Linked DNA regions of Homo sapiens: region 2 is linked to region 1. The links come from fine-mapping of genetic effects on gene expression. A gene starts in region 1. The other region holds a variant in brackets. All regions are shown on one strand. Distances are between the middles of the regions. Region 1 holds the start of KLHL25 (kelch like family member 25). Region 2 overlaps AKAP13 (A-kinase anchoring protein 13).

What was found. PIP is the estimated chance that this variant, and not a neighbour inherited with it, causes the effect.
Region 2: its variant is the best candidate, but not a certain one, in a credible set for the expression of KLHL25 in whole blood (INTERVAL, PIP 0.77).

What each region holds. Positions count from the first base shown.
Region 1 is chr15:85,792,864-85,798,242 of GRCh38, reverse strand. KLHL25 (kelch like family member 25) reads left to right here and starts at 3,318. Exons shown (of 3, transcript NM_022480.4): 1 at 3,318-3,477. RefSeq lists silencers at 3,128-3,197, 3,348-3,647.
Region 2 is chr15:85,631,453-85,636,831 of GRCh38, reverse strand. All of the region lies in intron 8 of AKAP13 (A-kinase anchoring protein 13), which reads right to left. Among named protein-coding and RNA genes, the nearest start is that of LINC02883, 120 kb to the left of the region's middle. The variant A/TTTGA (reference allele first, on the strand shown) is at 2,610.

The sequences.
Region 1 (5,379 bases):
TTAGCCAGGCGTGATGGTGCATGCCTGGTGATCGCAGCTACTCGGGAGGCTGAGGCAGGAGAATCGCTTGAACTCGGGAGGCAGAGGTTGTGGTGAGCTGAGATTGCGCCATTGCACTCCAGCCCGGGCAACAAGAGTGAAACCCCATCTTTAAAAAAAAAAAAGAACCAAGAATTTGATCATCTATTAACGAACATATATTGAATTCTATACATCATCCCAGAATTTCTGAGACTTCAGATTCTGGGCCACCAGGAATACTAGCTAGATGGCAATGCTGGGAGGAAGGTATTGGTAAGGATTGTTGGTGGACAACAGGCATCTATTCCCTCTTCCTTGTTAACAGAACCCTGACTTTGAGGAGGTGATGTACTAACATAAAAGTCTACATTTCCCAGCTGCTCTTGCAGGTAGGAAAACTAAATTCTGTCCATAAACAAAAGTGTTGTGTGGGACTTCTGCAGTCTGCATAAATAGAGCTAACCAGGCTGGAAGACACACATCTCATGCTCTTCCGCCATTATTCCTTCCTACTGTCTGGGATATAGGTGTCAGAGTTGGAGCCCTAGCAGCCATCTTGGACTATGGGGCAACCTTGCAAATGGGAACCAAGCATTACAGATGAAGGAATAAAAATACAGTAGCCCGTGTTTCTGACAACTGTGGAGTTGCCAACAAAGGATAGCTTAACTTTAGCTTTATTTTGCATAAGCAAGAAACTTCTATCTTGTTTCAGTCACAGTTAATTTTGGGTTTTCTGTCATATGCAGTAAAAACTAATTCTAACGGATATGAGATTTATTCACAGTATTTCAAAACTGTGTAGACAACTTTGATGCAGCCCTAAGAGTTCTGAGATGAATTCATGGTCCCTGCCCTCCCAGAGCTCCCTGCACAGCAGGTGGACTAGCTAAGCAGGCCATTACAACACTGGCTGGTAAGGGCTGCGTTGACGGTAATGCTCCAGGGTCCGCAATAGATGGCAAGGCAAACTTCCGCTCTTCCTCTCATCTTCTTTCAAATCGTACCTAAATTCGATTAACTCCACACGTGTTCTTAGTCTGATTTTGTCCCATTGCTTACACTGTATTTGATTTTAATATATTCTAGTACCTAATTTAAGCCTTGGAGTTGAAGAGAGAAAAAATTATAATGTGGACCAGATTTTACTGGGCGGTTGGCACTTATAATTTTACAGCGAACCTGCATAAAATAATAAGCAACAGTTATAAACTTGCCAAGAATCAATTTTGCATGTGGAGCTTCATTCAACCAACAATTCTATAAACACTCTAGTGCTAGAAAATCGGCAGGATAAAACTACAAATGTGATCTCTGTCATTTCCTTAATGAAGTAATTACTTTGATGCTAATGTGTTGGAGCTGGTTCCTTCCGGTGGGTTGGTGGTCTCGCTGACTTCAGGAATGAAGCTGCGGACCTTCACGGTGAGTGTTACAGCTCTTAGAGGTGGCGTGAACCCAAAGAGTGAGCAGCAGAAAAATTTACCGTGGAGAGCGAAAGAACAAAGCCCCCACAGCGCCAAAGGGGACCCAAGTGGGTTGCTGCTCCTGGCTGGGGGGCGGCCAGCTTTTATTAGCTTATTTGTCCAGGCCCATGTGCTGCTGATTGGTCCATTTTACAGAGTGCTGATTGGTCCGTTTTACAAACCTCTAGCTAGCCACAGAGTGCTGATTGGTGCATTTCTACAGAGCACTAATTGGTACATTTTACAAACCTCTAGCTAGATACAGAGCGCTGATTGGTGCATTTTACAATCCTCTTGTAAGACAGAAAAGTTCTCCAAGTCCCCACTGGACCCAGAAAGTCCAGCTGGCTTCACCTCTCACTACCTTTTCTCTTCAGAAGGCACCTTAACAGTGCACTTGGCAAGCTTCTTACCTCTGGCCAATATTGTTCATAAATATCAGAACCCTGGTGCCTTAGATGTCTGCAGATCTGGGCCAAATGGAAGCACAAATCTGTACTGAGCACTTACTACATGCCAGGCCTATTCCATATGTTATCTTAATCTTTCCCATACCCCTGCAAGAAAGGTTTTAGAATCCTCTTCACCAGTAAGAACCAGACACCAGAGAGTCTGAGCCATCTGCTTCAGTCCTACCCAGCTCTTGAGGGGCAGGGCGGGGCTTCAAACCCAGAACATCAAGCTGTTTCCCAAAAATGCCTTCCCTGGTGGTATCTTCTCATCATCTCCCAGTCTTTTAACCCTGGCATATCTGTCCTGTCTAAGCAGCTTTCTACCCAGGGGCTCTATTTCCCAGGTTCCACTAGTCACAATCCTATCCCCTCTCCCAAATCTTTGTACACTTTCTTAGACCTTCCTTGCACCTCCCACCTCCACCTCCGTCAGGGTGACCTCTGCTTCCTGGGAATTTCCCCGCCCCAGGCTTGGCTCTTTCGTTCTTATCACTTTCTATGCTTTACCTTTTGTATCCTTAAGCAACCTACTTGAATTATCGATTTTCATTGGGAGGGAGAAAAGAGAGGACATTTATTGCGCACTCATTTGTCTGGGAATTTGTCTCCTTTAATCCCCCAAATAATCCGATGAGGAGTTTTTATCTGCCGCTTTACGGATGAGATTGGACACACACAGTAAGCTGAAGTAGTAGTCAGGAGGGAAAAGGACGAAGAATCACAAACCGTTCTCCCCCTCCAAGATGAGTGCATGGTGTGGGCGTCCAGGAAACGTTCCTGGAAGAAATTATTGGATGGATGGATGAATGAATGAATGAACGAACATTTAAAGGCTGGCTTACGAAAGGAGTTTAGTGAGAAATGACACAGAGAGGAGAGCTGAAATACTCCAAAAAATACAGATTTCAAGTACAGGTGGGGTTTGGAGGCTGCAGAAAGTCCCAAACATTCAAACAAGCCCAGAGTGAAAGACAGGGTTTCATTAACACTCGGGCAACTACTAGTGTGGCTCTGAAGAGTCTAAAGAGATCTACAACACTTGTGACCCGAACACAAAAGAGGCATATGCAATCTACAGTGCTCCCTCTGGAAAGCTCTAGAACACCGTCGCGTTTTGTTCCCAAACTTGGGCGGCGGGGTTGGGCAGGCGCCTGTCTCTTTAAGAATCTGGTCGAAGTCCTTTTCCTCGCCCCGCCCCGCCCCCGGTCCCCCCCCCTCCCCGCCCCCGGCCCCCCACCCCCCGGTGCCGGCGCGGCCTGGGGCCCACCCCCTTCTTTTCTGCGGCTGCACTGAAGGGTTCGGCTGCCCATCCGTCACAGAGGCGATGCCTCTGATTGGCTGCTGCTCTTCGGGCCGGGAGGCGGGGCGGGAAGGCCGGAGAAACTAGTTTGTTGGCGGCGCCTAGGCTGTATCGCAGCGAGAGCGTTTTTGCCTGTGGAGAGCCGGCCGACGGGAGCCGCGGCGGAGCCTGTTGAGCTCGCGCGGGCTGCCGGGAGTGGTCTCTGAGGCGGCGGCGGCGGCGGGGATCGTCTCCGGCAGTGAGTATCCAGGCCGGGCGGGGACGCCGTGCTCTGGCCGCAGCACCCGCGCCCCCGCTCCCTGCGCTGGGGACTCACCACCCCGGGCCGGGCCGGGACCAAGCGCTCGGAGCCCCCGCGGGACTACGTGTCCCGGGAGGGGGCCCCGCGGCTGGGGCCGGGGCCCTGGGACAATGGTGGGGAGCGGCGGCCGGCCGGCACCCCGCGGCTCCGCGAGGGAATTCGCCGAGAGCTCTGCGCGAGGGAATGAATTGTTTGGCAAATGGATGTTGCGCGCGGGAGCCGCTACTCTTTCCCCAGGGAGTGGTTGATTCATTGAGTCCGCAGACTCTTTTTTTTAAAAAATTACTATTGATCCTGGAAAGAGAGACTGCTTGTCTTTGAGGACGCGAGCGGCGATGCCCCGCGCCTTGGACGCCCAGGCCGGATGGCTGCCTGCCTGGCGCAGAGCGAGGGCCCGGGGTTCACAAGGGGAGGGTTTGCGCGGGCCTGGCCGCGGAGCCCCGAGCCGTTCACGTTCCGCCTGCCAGGGTCCCTCGTTTCGGTTTGCAGAACTGTCCAGCGGCAGAGAAAGGTCGCACTCAAAGGCACACCCACCTGTCCACCTGGGTGGCGGCCAGACTGGCAGGTCCAGAGCAAGCCCTCTAGCCTGACTCTAATTACCACACTTGCCCTGGCTCCGAGACACACCGCGCGATGTTACGCCCCCACTCCCCCTGTCTCTTTCGTAGTTGCTTTAGAAGCTTTTCTCTTGGGGGATTGTGCCCGGGAGATACCAGATACTTTTTTTGTGTTGCTGCTCTAAGCCCCCAAAGTGCATTCCCATTGTCTTTGAACAAAGAAACATCTCTCTAGAGGCCTGACCCAACGAACTGTGGGTGAGGGGGCGGACCCAGGCCCCTGCAGATTTAATCTGGACGCTCTTGGGTCCTGCTGGATCCCGGTGAATTTGACCTTGGGGAAGGCGGGCTGGACTTTGACTCTCCTCGGTAGTCAGGGCAGAGAATGCCAGGTGTCTGGACCATTTGGTTCCACTCTATCGGCCCAATAGAGAGAGGAAGGGAAGGAAGTTAGCAGTAGCACCAGGAGAGGAGGCAGGATTCCACGGTCTGTATCCTGGACCAGATTCCAGTGACCGTTATGGGGCCAAGCCCTCTGGGACCCTGGGTCCCAGTCTCCCCATTCATAGGAGGAACTGATGCTCAGTGTGCTGATCTGAGCTGTGAGGATTCCTGGCATGTTGGTGAAGGCTTGCGTGGGGGTCTGGGGAAGAGTAGGACACAAAGTCTACCCCACCTCAGGGTCCATTTGGTGTCCCAAGACCGGAGGCTCTTGGGTCCACAAGCTGTGCCTGTGAAGGTTGACGTAGTCAGTCTTTTTCCGGCCTGGCAGCTATTTCAGTTTTGAGTCATTTGTCAGGCAGTGACTCCAGGGTGGTTGATAAAAGGGAGGTAGAAATGGAAGACACCTTCATCCTGGGGTCTTGGGCTGCAGTTGGATTTATGTATGTGGTGCGGAGAGAAGAGCTATAGGCAAATTGCATGCTCCACATCGGAAGCAGGTTCTGCAGCCCGATGCCCCTTAATAGCGTTTTAAATCTGCGGGCACCCCGTGTGGGCAGAAGAGAGCAGGAAGAAAAGAGAACAATTACCCAGTGAAAGCAAGCTTGGTTCGTCCCGTCTATCACTTGGGCGGGGGCGGGGGGAAGGGTAGGATGAGTGAGAGTGTTATTTAGTGGGTGGTTTGTGACTGATTGATTGATTGATTCATTGTTTGAACAGACTTGATTGGGCACCTGCTGTGTGCCAGGCCCTGAGTTAGGTGCTGGAGACTCTTCCTTTAGTGAGCACCTAGATGAGGGAGTGCTGGCACATGGATTAGGGGCCCTGACACATCGTAGTG
Region 2 (5,379 bases), 160 kb after region 1:
ATCAGCCTGGCCAACATGGTGAAACCACATCTCTACTGAAAATACAAAAATCAGCCAGGTGTGGTGGTGGGTCTCTGTAATCCCAGCTACTAGGGAGCCTGAGGCATGAGAATCACTTGAACCCAGGAGGCAGAGGTTGCAGCGAGCCGTGATTGTGCCACTGAACACCAGCCTGGACAACAAAGCAAGAATCTGCCTCAAAGGAAAAAAAAAAAATCAGCAAAATTCAACATCTATTCATGATAAAAACTCTCAGAACACTAGGAACAGAAAGGAAATTACTCAACCTGACAAAGGCATCTATAAAAAACCTACGGTTAACATTATATTTATTGGTGAAAGACTAAATGCTTTCATTCTGAGATCAGTAACCAAAGATGTCCATTCTCATCACTTTTATTCAACAATATTCTGGAGGTCCTATCCAGTGCAGTAAAGCAGAAAAAGAAAGAAAACGCATACCATTGGAAAGGAAGAAGTAAAACTTGGTTTATTCACAAATGGCGTGACTGCCTATGTAGAAAATCCTAAGGAATCTATAAAAATACTGGAATAAATAATGTATTAATAAAAGCAAGGTTGCCAGACACAAAGTCAACATACTAGCAATGAGCAATTAGAAATTGAAATTAAAAGTAAAAGCAATACCATTTACAAAAGCCTCAATAAATATAAAATAATTAGGGATAATTTTAAGAAAATATGAGTAAGACTCATACTCTGAAACCTTTATAAAACATTGTTGAGAAAAATTAATGCAGACTTAAATAAATACAGAGATTCCATGAGATCAGAAGACTCAATACAGTTGTTAATTGTCCTCAAATTGATCACTACATGATTTCAAGACATACTATAAAAGCTGCACTAACCAAACCGGGGTGATATTAAACAGCAGACATATAGATCAATGGCAGAGAAGAGAGAATCCACAAACAGACCTTCACAGATATGGCCCATTGATTCCTGACAAAGATGCCAAGATATTTTAATGAGGAACAAATAGTCTTATGAACAAATGATGCTATAACGACTGGATACTAATATGTAAACAAATACAACTCCCCAAGATCTAAAATCTTACCCCAAACCTTACCACCTATAAAAATGAACTCAGAATACTTTATATATCTAAATGTTCAACCTAAAACTATAAAACTCCTAAAGAAGACAGAGGGAAACACTTTTATGGGAACTTCGGTTACACAAAGATTTCTTAAATAGTACATTTTTTAAAACATGAAAAAAAAGGATAAATCTATGTCAACCTTAAAAACTTTTACTCCTCAAAAGCCACTGTTAGGAAAACAAAAAGGTAAACTAAAAACTGAAGGAAAATATTTATAAAACAATTATCTGCTAAGAACTCCTACCCGGAATATTTAAAAATAAAAGAAACTCTTACAATGCAGTAACAAAGCAACATGATTTTTTAAATGGGTAAAAGATTTGAATAAACATTTTATTTAAAAAGATATACGAAAGGCAGATAAGCAAAAAAAAGATACCCAACATCATTAATCCACAGGAAAATGTAAATTAAAATCACAAGGACATAGCAGCAGACATCCATTACAAGAGTCAAAATTTGAGACTGATAATACCAAATGTTGGCAAAGATGTGGAGCAACTAGAACACAGTACTGTTGCTGAAAGAAAGCAAAATAGTACAGCCATTTTGGGAAAGCAGTTTAGCAGTTTTTCATAATGTCAAACATATACTTACATACAACATAGCATTCCATTCATTTACCGAAGAAGAATCAAAACCTACTGTCACACAAAGACTTGCACTGGAATTTTTAAAGCGCTTTAATTCATGAGAGCTCCAAACTAGAAACAGTCCAGATTGCCATCAAATGGTAAATGGATAAGCAAATTATAATATATCCATACAATGTTATAGATTCATAGAAAGAAGAAATGAACTGCTGATACAAACAACATGGATGAATCTCAAGAGTATTACGGTAAGTTAAAAAAAAAAAAAAGCCAGACTCAAAAGACTATGTATTGTATGGTTCTATCCATGCAATATCTAGAAAAGGCAAGCCTACAGTAGCAAGAAAACATTAGTGATCAGCAGAGAATGAAGGAGAAGACTGACTACAGGGAGACAGAACAGAACTTCTGAGCTGACAGAAGTGTTCCTATTATGATGCGGTAGTGATTACACAATTTAAATATTTGTCAAGGCTCACCAAACTATAAACTTATATTGGTTAATTTTGTTGTATGGAAATTTATACCAGAATAAAGCTGAAAACAAATACATTCTCAAAAACAGAAGTATAAAATATAAAATAAATTTTAGTCTTCACAATTCCCACACACCTTAACATTATAACCCTTTAATCATTAAAACTGACATACTTAGATGTAATTCTAAATAATATGAGCAGAAATATCTAAACAAACTACTAAGTAGTTGTGAATATTTGTATGCTCAAAGACAGAAGCCTTGATTTTATTCAATAACCTCTAAAATATATTTCTGATCACTTTAGTGAGAATCTTAAACTCTTCTGCTGACAAAGATCAACAGTTTTACTGTATATGCTAAGTGGCATAAGGCAGAAAGCTAGAGACATTTTGTCAAATTATAACTG[A/TTTGA]CAATAAAATGAATGAAAGGAATTAAACTGCTTGCAAATAACCAGGCAAACTAGAACCACATGAAACAAAACACTTTATCATTTGCTCTGTTCAGCTATTTTACTATTACAGAGAGCAAAAACAGCAAGAATCAGGGGCCATCAAGGTTTCAGTTCCTGGTGTGTTACAAAATGATGCCAAAAATTTAAAAGTAATCCTGAATGGAACTGAATCTTCAGCAGGTGCCCTGGGATTACACATATTTAAAAATATCCTTTCTGAAAGGTACTTTAAGGTATACACAATAAGGAAGTAACCACAAATTTTGTAACTTTACCAACACCCTATCCACATCTTTCAAAGAATTGAAACAACACATTTTCCTTTTTAAAAAAAAAAGGCCGGGTGCAGTGGCTCATACCTGTAATCCCAGCACTTTGGGAGGCCGAGGTGGGCAGATCACGAGGTCAGGAGATCGAGACCATCCTGGCTAACACAGTGAAACCCCGTCTCTACTAAAAATACAAAAACATTAGCCAGGCGTGGTGGCGGGCGCCTGTAGTCCCAGCTACTCGGGAGGCTGAGGCAGGAGAATGGCGTGAACCCGGGAGGCTCAGCTTGCAGTAAGCCGAGATTGTGCCACTGCACTCCAGCCTGGGTGACAAAGAGAGACTCCGTCTCAAAAAAAAAAAAAAAAAAAAAAAAAAGAAAAAAAAAGTCATTCAGAGAATTTTCTCTTAATTTCAAATGGCATTTCATTTGCAATGAGCCAAATTTTACTTACTGTGAAATAAGATTCTCTGCTAATAGAACCACTGTACTGCAATACAAAACTACACTTTTAAGCTGGAAGGGAAAAAATTACTCCCCCCCCGCCCCTATTATTCCTGTAATAAGAAGAGGCTGCATGAATACAGCAACAAGTTTAGTTTACAGAAATAAAAGAGCTCAGATGATTCTTTAGTGATAAGTAAAGAATGTGGAAATGAACTACTACGAATTACCATATTACTGTCTCTTACCTTGACCTTCAACAAGGGGCCAACAGTTTAGAAAACCCTATTAAAATTCTATTTCTGCCGGGCGCGGTGGCACATGCCTGTAATCCCAGCACTTTGGGAGGCCGAGGCAGGCGGATCACAAGGTTAGGAGTTCGAGATCATCCTGGCCAACATAGTGAAACCCTGTCTCTACTGAAAAAATACAAAAATTATCTGGGCGTGGTGGCACATGCCTGTAGTCCCAGCTACTTGGGAGGCTGAGACAGGAGAATCGCTTGAACCATGGAGTCAGAGGTTGCAGTGAGCCAAGATCACGCCACAGCACTCCAGCCTAGCGACAGAGCAAGATTCCGCCTCAAAAAAAAAAAAATTTTATTTCTTAGAATACTTTTCATTACCTTCTCAATACCACATGTCATTCCACAGCCAATGAGTAAAGTGAACATTATTTGCCTTGAATATGCAAGCAACTAAGACTCTCTATACTTTTCCTGTCATTTTAGGTACATGTGTTACATAAAGTGAGTTTCATATTTTACAAAATTATATACAATAAACACATACTACTAGAACAAAATTAAAGTTACATATCTTTAAGTAAATATGCTAATTTCTGAGTAACAGTGATGAGAACATAATAACAGTGATGAGAACATAATCATGTTGGAAAACAATTCTCCATGTCCCTCTTGCATTTCTGCAGGTTTTATCAGCAAAAGCCCTGATGGTCCTTTTATTCTAGACTATCTTTTCAAGACTGTTTGTATATCAAACACCCTTAGAAGATAAAAATACTGTTTCCTTCCGAAGCAAAGGGCAGGTTTGTTTCTGTCCAGTATTATAAAGATAATGTCTCAGTCAAGGGCAAAGGTCACACAGGCTTACTGTCCACTGTATAAAAATTCAGATTTCTTCAGGTTTAGATTTCTCAGCTGTGACACAGCATCAACCTGGACCCCTTCGTGTTGCCTGCATAGGGCTTAGGAAGCAAGGAGAACCAACGAGAAGGTGATGCTGATGCTGCTGGCTATGCAATGAGTAATACATTTACCTGTCTCTGACCCTAGAATGCCATGACTTCAGCCAGCACCCATGAAACTGTGTCAGGATGTAAGTTAACTTGCCAGCTTGCAAGTACGGAACAATTTCCGATCCACCACATTAACAATTAGTATATATTATATAGTATTAAAAATTTTACACACAGTGGCAGCCAAAAATCTCTTGACATGTTACACTTCTGTGGTGCAATCTCCTAATCTATTTTCAATTGGGTGGATATGTCTGAACGACCACAAAGAGACAACTTATATTCCTTTTAACTTTCCTGTAGTTTCCCAAATTTTCTTCAATGGTTATATATTTCTTTTATTTTTAAAAAATTTATCTTGATAAACTTATTTTGTAACAACTTCAGGCTGATACAAAAAATAGTATACATAAAAAGTAGAAATAACTTTAGTTTGCAAAGACAGCACAGAAAGTTCCCGTTTATCCCCACTCCCTTCCTCACTGGTTTCTCCAACGTTAACATCTTACATAACCATAACACAGTTGTCAATACTAAGAAACCAACACTGGTACATTACTATTAAGTAAACTCCGGACTTTATTTGGATTTCACTTGTTTTCCCATTAGTGTTCTCTTTCTGTTCCAGGATCCCATCCAAATCACCACATTGCATTTAGTGTGTGTGTGTGTGTGTGTGTGTGTGTGTGTGTGTGTGTGTGTGTGTGTGAGAGAGAGAGAGAGAGAGAAAGTGTGTGTGTGTTATTTTGCATTTTAACA